Linked DNA regions of Homo sapiens: all the other regions are reported to be linked to region 2. Evidence: microRNA targets listed by miRTarBase, many of them from high-throughput screens and not tested one by one. Region 2 holds a microRNA gene; each other region holds the end of a gene's coding sequence.
Evidence for each region. The annotated mature microRNA hsa-miR-1255b-2-3p reads AACCACUUUCUUUGCUCAUCCA and lies in region 2 at 2,151-2,172, shown strand. An mRNA with a match to its seed (bases 2 to 7 or 8) in the 3' UTR can be bound and repressed. Matches are read on the target gene's strand: a 7mer-m8 pairs with bases 2 to 8, a 7mer-A1 pairs with bases 2 to 7 and ends in A, and an 8mer does both.

Region 1 (3,357 bases), not on the chromosome of region 2:
GGTTAAAGCTAAAAAATGACACTGGAAATGATCATCCTATATCTGTTTCTACATCAGAAATACAAACATCAGGATGCGAAGTATCAAAAAAGACCAGAATGAAAATTGCCCAGAAAACAATGGGCAGGGAAAATCCTGGTGATACACACAGTGTACAGAAATGGCATCGAGCTTTTCCAAGGAAGAAAAGAAAGAAACCTGCAACTTGTAAACAAGAGCTTCCAAAACTTATGGATCTTCATGGGAAAGGCCCCACAGGGGAGAAACCTTTTAAGTGTCAGGAATGTGGGAAAAGCTTCAGAGTTAGCTCTGATCTTATTAAACACCACAGAATTCACACTGGAGAGAAACCCTATAAATGTCAACAATGTGACAGGAGGTTTAGATGGAGTTCAGATCTTAATAAGCACTTCATGACCCATCAAGGAATAAAACCATATAGATGCTCATGGTGTGGGAAAAGCTTTAGTCATAACACAAATCTACACACACACCAAAGAATTCACACAGGAGAGAAGCCCTTTAAATGTGATGAATGTGGAAAAAGATTCATTCAGAACTCCCACCTTATTAAACACCAGAGAACTCACACAGGTGAGCAGCCTTATACGTGTAGCTTATGCAAGAGAAACTTTAGTAGGCGATCGAGCCTTCTTAGACACCAGAAACTCCACAGAAGAAGGGAAGCATGTCTAGTGTCTCCAAACTGAGGAAAGTTACCATGTAGAGCTTGACTTTAGAAGTGGTGAAAGAATACAAAATTATGAGGCACCCAATGATAGGAATCTGTGATTAATAAAACATTTGGGAAGGGTACATGTTACACTTCACAAAAAGGAATCTAAGCTGTCTGTTTTATTCAGCATTGCATCTTCTGTGCCTAGCACAAGAGTTGATACATAAGGAGTACTTTATAAATAAAAAAATGAAAGTGTAGTGATGAGATTCCTTTAGCTATCTATCTATATGTATATATCTGGTTATTCAAAGCTTCCCCACCCCCAGTCATCTAAATTTTTCAGGTATCAAGTGCTCAACAGACATATGATAGTCAAGGCTCTTAGTCTCATTTTTTACTCTTTGTCAAGAGAAATGGAAAATAAGAGTACTTGGGCCCTCTTAAGGGAGCTCAGAGAGAATTACTAAATTAGGGACAGTTTCAATAGTTATCATTCTGTCTACATGAACAATCAAGACCAGGACTCAGGGAACTTTACTCTGTAACAGAAAGAGAGGATTCAGTGTTTGCCCTGGGAGAATTGTCCCATTCTTGTTGCTTCTCTCCTGAGTACCCACTACCACAATGTCTTCTGTCAAGGAATTACAAGTAGCAAGGGAAGGTCTGAATGTAAGGACAGGCCTAGGGACCTTGCAAGCACTTGATATCTCTCCTCTTGCTGACTTTGTCAACATAGACATATAGTGAAATGATGAGGGAGGCAGTCTTGGCCCTCATCCAGGTATCTGGTTTTTTTTTGTAGAAAGCACAGATAAGTGGTAAATGGTCTTTTTCTGACTTTCATTATGTGGACTGGATGGAGGCTTTCAAACTGGTGCCATACTGCTGCAGGACCTAAAGGGAGCCCCATCTTTATGGCTGATCAACTACAACCCTATATGCCTGAATACTCTGCAAGAAGGCCTGGAGATTTTGCAAAACTGATTTATTGAGAATGGCAAGGAGAGCCTTGTGAACTTTTAGCTTTGGTGCACAGCTGATACCAGGAGGGAACATCCTGAAGTGTCAGAGAAAAGTAAGGCATATGGCTCACAGTGATGATGCCAGTCAGAGCCAGGCCAGATGGAAATTGTTTTCTGATGTTACTGGTTTTCTTTTCCCTATTAGCCAAAGTGACTATCTCTTAAGAGAAGATAATGTGACGTCAAGGGAAGTTGGAAGGCATGGATTTATATCTATGTCAGATCCTGGTTTATAATGTTGGCCAAGGCTTATTTATATATGTTTATTTAGTATTCCATAAAATTGTACTTCGTAATGAAAATGACACATTTTATCTTAAATTTAGACAATAAACAAAACTTTGTTACCAAATCACTCAGAAATGGCCAATGTTTGCTTTTTTGAAATGGATGTCTTCAGATATTTTTTCCACCAAGAGACCGTTCTAAGCCTGTTTCCAAATTTATAAAATGAGGATTATAATTCCTACTTCTTAGGGCTACTGTGAGGATTAAATGCACACATGTGAGCATGTCTGACACAATGATTGGCCACATTTGGTGTTTCCTAAACATTTGGAACTTTCTTCATTCTTCCTTCACCTAGTTATTTAGAAAAGAAAATAAGCTTTGTCTACTTGCCCAGCTTTTAAGCATTCTTCATTAATGAGTTTTCCATCATTTCTAGCTGGTTTTTAGGCCCACTAATGATGGTCAGAATGGTAGCCTTCTGGCATGACATTCATTTGGTTCTAGAGGTGCTCCTCTCTAGTCAGCCTGAAACAATACACTGATGTCCCAATTCAGCTAGCTATACTGCTCATGAGTAACAAAACCAAAATATACTACAAACCCTCAACTTGAGATTCCTGAAAATGGAGGGGAGGTGATGGCTAGGGGTGGAATTTTTGTGGACAGTATTTATGCTACTAGGTGCATCCTCAAGCCAATAAAGTAGAAATGAAAGAGGAAAGAGGTGACTGCACATAATGGCGACTAAAAAGAATGAAAGTGCTAAGCCAAAAGGAGGAAGTGACCTGGGAGGAAAGGATCTCATATTCCCAAAGGCTTGGAGACTATGACTGCCTCACCACCCCTCCTCCTAGAATGATCTGAGATTGTGCCCTTGAAACTAAAATGGGAAATTCAAATTCCTGCAGGGGACTCCATTCTCTTTGTGTGAATCCATGTTTGCTAGCATCCTGGATAGCTGCTATCATACCACCATTCAAATAAATTTATTCATGTAGCTTTTATAAAGAAGGGAGGTTAACTAAAAAATTCAAGGATGTACTAGGTCAATGGACCCAGCAGTTATACTCATGAGAATCAGCAAAGTCCCCCAGAACAAGTCAGCAAAAGAGCACTCCACTTTCCTAAAGCTGCTTACCCCTGTTATAATACCTGTTACCTTCAAAGCTTATCGTGCAGGTCCTCATCTACACTGGCATCATTATCAGCAGGGTTTGAGAGCAGGGAACATGGGTTCTATTTGAGAGATCAATTATTTAAGGCAAGTGGCAGGAAGTGACTGCCTTTAGATGGGTCTGAGCAGAAACAGAGAACTGGGATTTGTTATTCCAAGTTCAGATACTCCACCATCATTTGAATACAAGGGCCCCAGGAAAAAGCACATTCTCATCCCTGAGGTTGTGGAACAGGATCTAGAAATCAGTG
Region 2 (3,357 bases):
TATACAGCATTCAAAGTGATCCTTAGAAACATAAGTTAAATCATGCCGCTCTTCTCATCAACATTCTAAGTGGCTCCCTGTCGGACCTAAAGCAAAACTGAAGTCCTTATGGTGGCTTCAAGATCTTATATTATCTGGTCCTAATTATTACTTCTACTGTTTTCTTCTTTACTGTGCTCTAACCACATCTACTTGCTTAGTAACTCAGGCCAAGCATGACTCTATTTTAGGATTTTGCATTTACTCTGCCTGAAATGCTCTTCCCTGGATACCTGGATTTTTTCTTCCCTGTGTATTTCAGGTCTTTGCTTATGTAACCTTCTTGGTGAAGCCCTACTTCACCATCCTATTTAAAATCACGGCCTTTAACTGATACTACCTATCCCCTTTTCTACTTTATTTCTCTCCATAACAGTAACTTTCTATGTATATTTTGCTTTTTCATTTCATGTGTTGTTTGCTCCATCGGGCTGTAAATTCTGTGACATTGGGGATTTTTTGTGTGTTTTGTCCATTGTTGTTTTCCAATACCTGTAATAGTACCTGACATATAAAAGGTGCTCAAAAAATATTTGGTGAATGAAACGCCATTTTCAGTATTCTTGCCTAGGTTATTTCACATACTCAGAAAGTCAAATTTGAGATTGTTTTTAATTTGAAGATTTTATTCTATAAATAATTGCTGAGGTTGTAAAACCAGTTCTTTGGCTATGTAATATAAAAATTCCTCTCTGTTGAAACCATGAAGCAAGATTCTATTATATTGTTTTAAGAATAGTTCGTATGAAGGATGAAGCCCTCTCCTTTTGGGAGTGATTAGTTGTTTGAGAATTTGCACAGCTGCCACATTAAGCTTTGTTCTGGTTATTCCCTGTCACACACTTACGTCTTCCTGTGTAGATTTTACTATTCTCAGTTGCCTTTAGCCATACTTACACATAATATGGAATTTATGGGGATTTTTTTTTCTGTCTCCTTTGCTCAGGATGCAAAGATTTTTTTCTATTCATGTTACTAGGTATGGTTTCCAGAAGAAATCAGAAAATTCACTGTTAAGTGTCACCAAGTTTTTATCAAAACCTGTTTAATTTTCAGGAAAAAAAAATCAATGAATGCTGTTTTTAAAAAATAAATAAAAATAAAAAGAGTGACCCACAGGATGGGAGAAAATGTTTTGCAGATCATGTGTCTGGTTACAGTTTAGTATCCAGAATGTATAAGGAACACTTACAGTGCAACAATAAAAAGACAAATATCCAAACTTAAAAATAGGTAAAGGATTTGAATATATAATACTTTTTTTTCCCCAGAGAAGACATATAATAGAAATGGCAATAAGTACATAAGGAGATACTCAACGTTATTAGTCCTCAGGGAAATGCAGATCACAACCACAGTGAGATATCACTTCATACCCACTAGGATGACTAAAATAAAAAAGACAGACAATAACAAGTTTTGACAAACATGTAGAGAAATTGGAACCCTCAAAAAATTAGAGTTATTATATGAGCCATACTTCTCCTCCCAGATATACAGGCTTCTCTTGGAGATATTGCAGGTTTGGTTCTAGACCATTGCAATAAAGTAAATATTGCATTAAAGCAAGTCACACAGATCTTTTGGTTTCCCAGTGCATGTAAAAGTTATGTTTATACTGTACCATAGTCTGTTAAGTGTGCAATAGCATTATATCTTAAAAACCAATGTATATACCTTAATTTAAAAATACTTCATTGCTAAAAAGTGCTAACAATCATCTGAACCTCAGTAAGTTGTATTCTTTTTGCTGGTGGAGGGGCTTACCTTAATGTTGATCACTGCTGACTGATCAGAGTGGTGGTTGCTGAAGGTTGGGGCTGTGACAGTTTCTTGAAATAAGACATCAGTGAAGTTTCTGCATCGATAGACTCTTCCTTTCATAAAAGATGTATTTGTAGCTTGTAACGGTGTTTGATAGCTTCTTACACACAATAGAACTTTTCTCCAAATTGGAGTCAGTCCTTTCAAACCCTGCTGCTGCTTTATCAACTAAGTTTATGTAGTACTCTATAATAGATCCTTTTGTTGTCATTTCAGCAGTGTTCACAGCATCTTCACTAGGAGTTGCTTCTTACGGATGAGCAAAGAAAGTGGTTTGCGCCTCAAGAAACCACTTTCTTTGCTCATCCATAAGGAGCAACTCCTTATCTGTTAGTTTTATCATGAGATTGCAACAATTCTCACACCTTCAGTCTGTACTTCTAATTCTAGTTCTTTTGTTGTTTTCACCTCATCTGCAGTGACTTCCTCTACTGAAGTCTTCTACCCCTCAAAGTGATCCACTAGGGTTGGAATTAACTTCTTCCAAACTCCTGTTAATATTGTTATTTTGACCTCCCACGAATCACAAAAGTTCTTAATAAGGCATCTAGAATGGTCAATCCTTTCTAGGTTTTCAGTTGACTTTTCACAGATCCATGAGAGGAATCACTATCTGTGGCAGCTATAGCCTTACAAAATGTGTTTCTTAAATAAGACCTGAAGGTTGAAATTACTCTTTGATCTATGGGATACAATGAAAATGTTAATCTCCATGTACATCTCCATCAGAGCCCTTGGATGACCAGGTGCATTGTCAATGCCCAGTAGTATTTTGAAAGGAATCTTTTTTTCTGAGCAGTAGGTCTCAATAGTGGGCTTCAAATAGTCAGTAAAACATGCTGTAAAGAGATGTGCCCTCATCCAGGCTTTGTTATTCCATTTATAGAGCAGATTCAATTAAACATAATTCTTAAGGGCCTTAGGATTTTCAGAATGGTAAATGAGCATTGGCTTCTGCTTAATGTCACCACTGCATAAGCCCCTAACAAGAGAACCAGCATGTCCTTCGAAGCTTTGAAGGCAGGCATCAGCTTCTCCTCTCTAGCTGTGAAAGTCCTAAATGGCATCTGCTTCTGATAGAAGGCTGTTTCATTTGCATTGGAAATCTGTCGTTTAGGGTAGCCACTTTGATCAATTATCTTAGCTAGATCTTCTGGATAACTTGCTGCAGCTTCCACATCAGGACTTGCTGCTTTACCTTGTACTTTTATGTTACAGAAAGACAGCTTCTTTCCTTAAACTGCATGAACCAACCTCTGTTAGCTTCAGACTTTTATTCTACAGCTCCCTTACCTCTAACAGTTTTCATAGCTTTAAAGAGATTTAGCGCCTTGCTCTGGGTTAGGCTTTAGCTTAAGGGAATGTGATGACTGGTTTGATCTTCCTTCTAGACCACTCAGACTGTTTCCATATCAGTAATAAGGCTGTTTCGTTTTCTTATCATTCATATGTCCACTGGAGTAGCACTTTTCTAAAAGTTCCTTCCAGAACTTT
Region 3 (3,000 bases), not on the chromosome of region 2:
GAAAATGAATACTTTAAGATTAAGAGAGGTATATTTGGATAAGTGATTATTTTTCTCTCTTAAAAATCTTTATTGTTGTCATTCCCTATTTATGTTTTTTATGTTTTTAAAGAGACAGGTGTTAGTGGACTAGAGAATCAGCAGAGGCTTTCAAGACCTCCTGAGGTGAACTAGGACTGAAAGCTGTGTACTGTTTGGGAGGAAGGAGGCTGGACTCTTTGAGATGTGTGAGCCAGGAGGAAGGGGCCCCATTCTAGGCCTTGGTCTCTAAGAATGGGTTCACTTGTCTGATGGTCTACGGTCTGGTATGATATAAAAGTCCTTTCTTGCATTCCAGGGTCTCCTCATGCTGCTACAGAACCTACCTACAATACACTGGGGCAACGAAGAAATTGGGCTGCTTCTCGCCGAGGCATACAGACTCAAGTACATGTTTGCCGATGCCCCAAATCACTACCGCCGATAGGTGCTGTCTCCTCCGGGGACCCAGACTGCCTTCATCTCTGATGGCAGTCTGATCACTGTGGCCACTGTGCGAGCCGTGGACCCCGGCCAGGAACCACTCCTGTTGTACAAAGCTCACACCCACCGCCCAGGTCTTAACTTTCTGGCATCCACCACTCCATGTCTCTGGATGTGTCACTTGGACCACTGTCAGTATTCCATGCCGCGTGGATGGGCCCAGTTCTGGGAGAGGACAGAAAAGGTGGTACAGGGTTGTCTGCCCCTTTAAAAGAAACTGGACAAAGAAGGGGAAGGCTCAGGGTCTCACCTCACATTGTCCCTACAAGGACAGGCCCCAACTGATAACCGTTGCTTTTTTTTTTTTGTGAACATAGTTTGATTTGATCACAGGTCAAAAACGCCTTATATTTTCGAAAGACTCCTGGCCCCTCTTCCCTCTTCCTGGTTTCCTAGCCGTTCCCCTTCTGCCCCAGTCTGAGCCAGTGAGGGGTAGCTTTTTAAAACCATTATTCTAGATGGAGGAGGCACTGATGCTTGTAACTCTGGAAAGAGGCCTACACCCAAGGGCTAGGAATTTTATTTTTCCTTTTCTCACCAGGTGTCTGCATGTGTGTGTGGGTGTGAATGTGTATACATGCCCATCAGCATTTAGTCACATGTCTGAATTTCTGTGTCCAGACGAGCCCCATCAAACTAGTTGGGAAGGGCCCCAGTGACCAAGTGTATAAGCATCCCTTGAAGAGGGATTGGGGCAGGGGAGGCAGAAGGGGCTCTCCAGACCCCTTTTCCATGATGACCCACTCCAAGATATTATGTGTAAATTGTGTTATTATGTATATGGGTAAAGATGTACAAATATATGTCCTCTTTGTAGCAGATATGATTTTATATTTATAATGTGCATCAACATGTGAAAGCAATCTAGGTCACTAGCACAGAGGAAGTTGCCAGGAAGGTGGCTTCAGCACCTCCAGGTTGGTTCTGGGTGTCCTGCTGTGAGGGGTAGAACGGGAGGCTGCTGAAGTGAGTAGCTGAGCAGCTGGAGCCATCCCAAGCATCAGTGTCTCAGAGTCCTCCTCGCCCCTTTCTTCACCCCGCCCCCCAACCCCCAGACTTTCCTGGAGCATCTGCCCTTTGCTCCTAGCAGCCTCCCCAGGAAGGGACTGCAGAGGCGGGCAAGCCCTCTCTATGTGTTTTTATCCCCACCTTCCCCGGAATCTGGGGAGGGCTTTTGTTTTTACGTTTTCAAGTTCAGCATTGTATTCGGACAGAAGCTGTGACTGAAGACTCAGTGCCAAGGAAAGGGGCTTCTTGTGTGTCCCTCGGGTTTGGGGCTCTTCTCAGAGAGCAGCACTCCATATCCCTTACTGTCACCTTCACTCCCCACACAGCTCATGAGATGTGTGACCCCTGTTTGAGTTTTGGTATTTGGTAGTGGAGGGTGGGGGGATGGGGGCCAGCAGCTGTCATCCTCCTGGGAAGCCGAGCAGTGTCCCTGGTGGGTAACACCCTCAAGTCTCTTTGCCAGTGAGGCCCCACCACATCGGTGTGAGTTAGGTTTCTCATCTGGAGCTGTTTCTCAGGCATTCTTCCCAACCCTCTTCCTTTTCCCCTTCGGTGTGCCTCAGTGGTCTCCTTCATAGAGTGAGAGGGCTTGAGACCCTCCCTCAACCGGACTAATTAAAGAAAGACACTTGTGTTCCCAAGTGGTGGTTTTATTTTTTTAGTTTTTATGTTTGTATGGGAAATTGTGGATAAAGTGAAAAGAATTGTAAATAAATGGTGTATTTCCTCCTCCATCTGCTGGTTTTTCTCCTGTATGTGTCCATGGAACCTAAAGAGTCTCCTCTTTTTGAGTTTTTCTTGCTGATACTAGTAGGTGTGTGGTCAGGCCTTCTGTGAGGTGAGCAGGGCATCAGCAGAGGATCAACCAGCAAACACTTACCCGACATCCATCTATGAAAGGTACTGTGGAAACTACAAAAATGAGTAACTTGGTAAATGAAACTACTAAAAAGAGTTAACTTGCCAACCACTTTGAGAAGCACTTTACATGGATTATTTCATTCATCTAAAAGAAGTATGTTATCTGATAGAGGGTAGAAAACAGACTAGAATTTCAGTGCTGGATGAAAACTTGGAGATATCTAGTTTAACCCCCTCATTCGCAGAGGAAAATCCAAGCCAAGGCCAAGGAAGACAGCATCAGAGTCAGAACCAGAGACCCGGTGTCCTCCTGGCTTGCCTGTTCAGTGTGTTTCCACCAGAGTAGAAAGAACTAAGATGGCCGCCATGTAGGATTGTCTTTAAGTCTTTTTTCGGTTGTCAGCTGTTGTTTTTTTTTTCTTGGTAACCTTACTGTGAAATATCTCAAGAAAGGTAGCTGATTACATTTCATCTACAAAGGACAGGTTGGAATGGTTTCTCCACCCAGAATTCCTTCCTAGGATTTATTTGAGAGTATTTCTTGGTTTCAGTCATTAGGAACCACATAAAAATTAAATTCAGCTATGTGTAATAAAAACCAAAAATAGG

Region 1: the mRNA of ZNF75D is a reported target of hsa-miR-1255b-2-3p. Seed matches in the 3' UTR shown: 7mer-m8 at 741-747 and 8mer at 1,493-1,500.
Region 3: miRTarBase lists TBC1D22B as a target of hsa-miR-1255b-2-3p. Seed matches in the 3' UTR shown: 7mer-m8 at 2,170-2,176.

What each region holds. Positions count from the first base shown.
Region 1 is chrX:135,284,490-135,287,846 of GRCh38, reverse strand. It overlaps ZNF75D (zinc finger protein 75D), which reads left to right. Exons shown (of 7, transcript NM_007131.5): 7 at 1-2,056. The coding sequence ends at 710. Among named protein-coding and RNA genes, the nearest start is that of ETDC, 23 kb to the left of the region's middle.
Region 2 is chr1:167,996,549-167,999,905 of GRCh38, forward strand. MIR1255B2 (microRNA 1255b-2) reads left to right here and starts at 2,112; the gene lies at 2,112-2,178. The region is part of intron 7 of DCAF6 (DDB1 and CUL4 associated factor 6); the gene reads left to right.
Region 3 is chr6:37,330,707-37,333,706 of GRCh38, forward strand. TBC1D22B (TBC1 domain family member 22B) reads left to right here. Exons shown (of 13, transcript NM_017772.4): 13 at 338-2,264. The coding sequence ends at 466. It overlaps LOC105375040 (a long non-coding RNA gene), which reads right to left. Exons shown (of 4, transcript XR_007059566.1): 4 at 2,364-2,442. Among named protein-coding and RNA genes, the nearest start is that of RNF8, 22 kb to the right of the region's middle.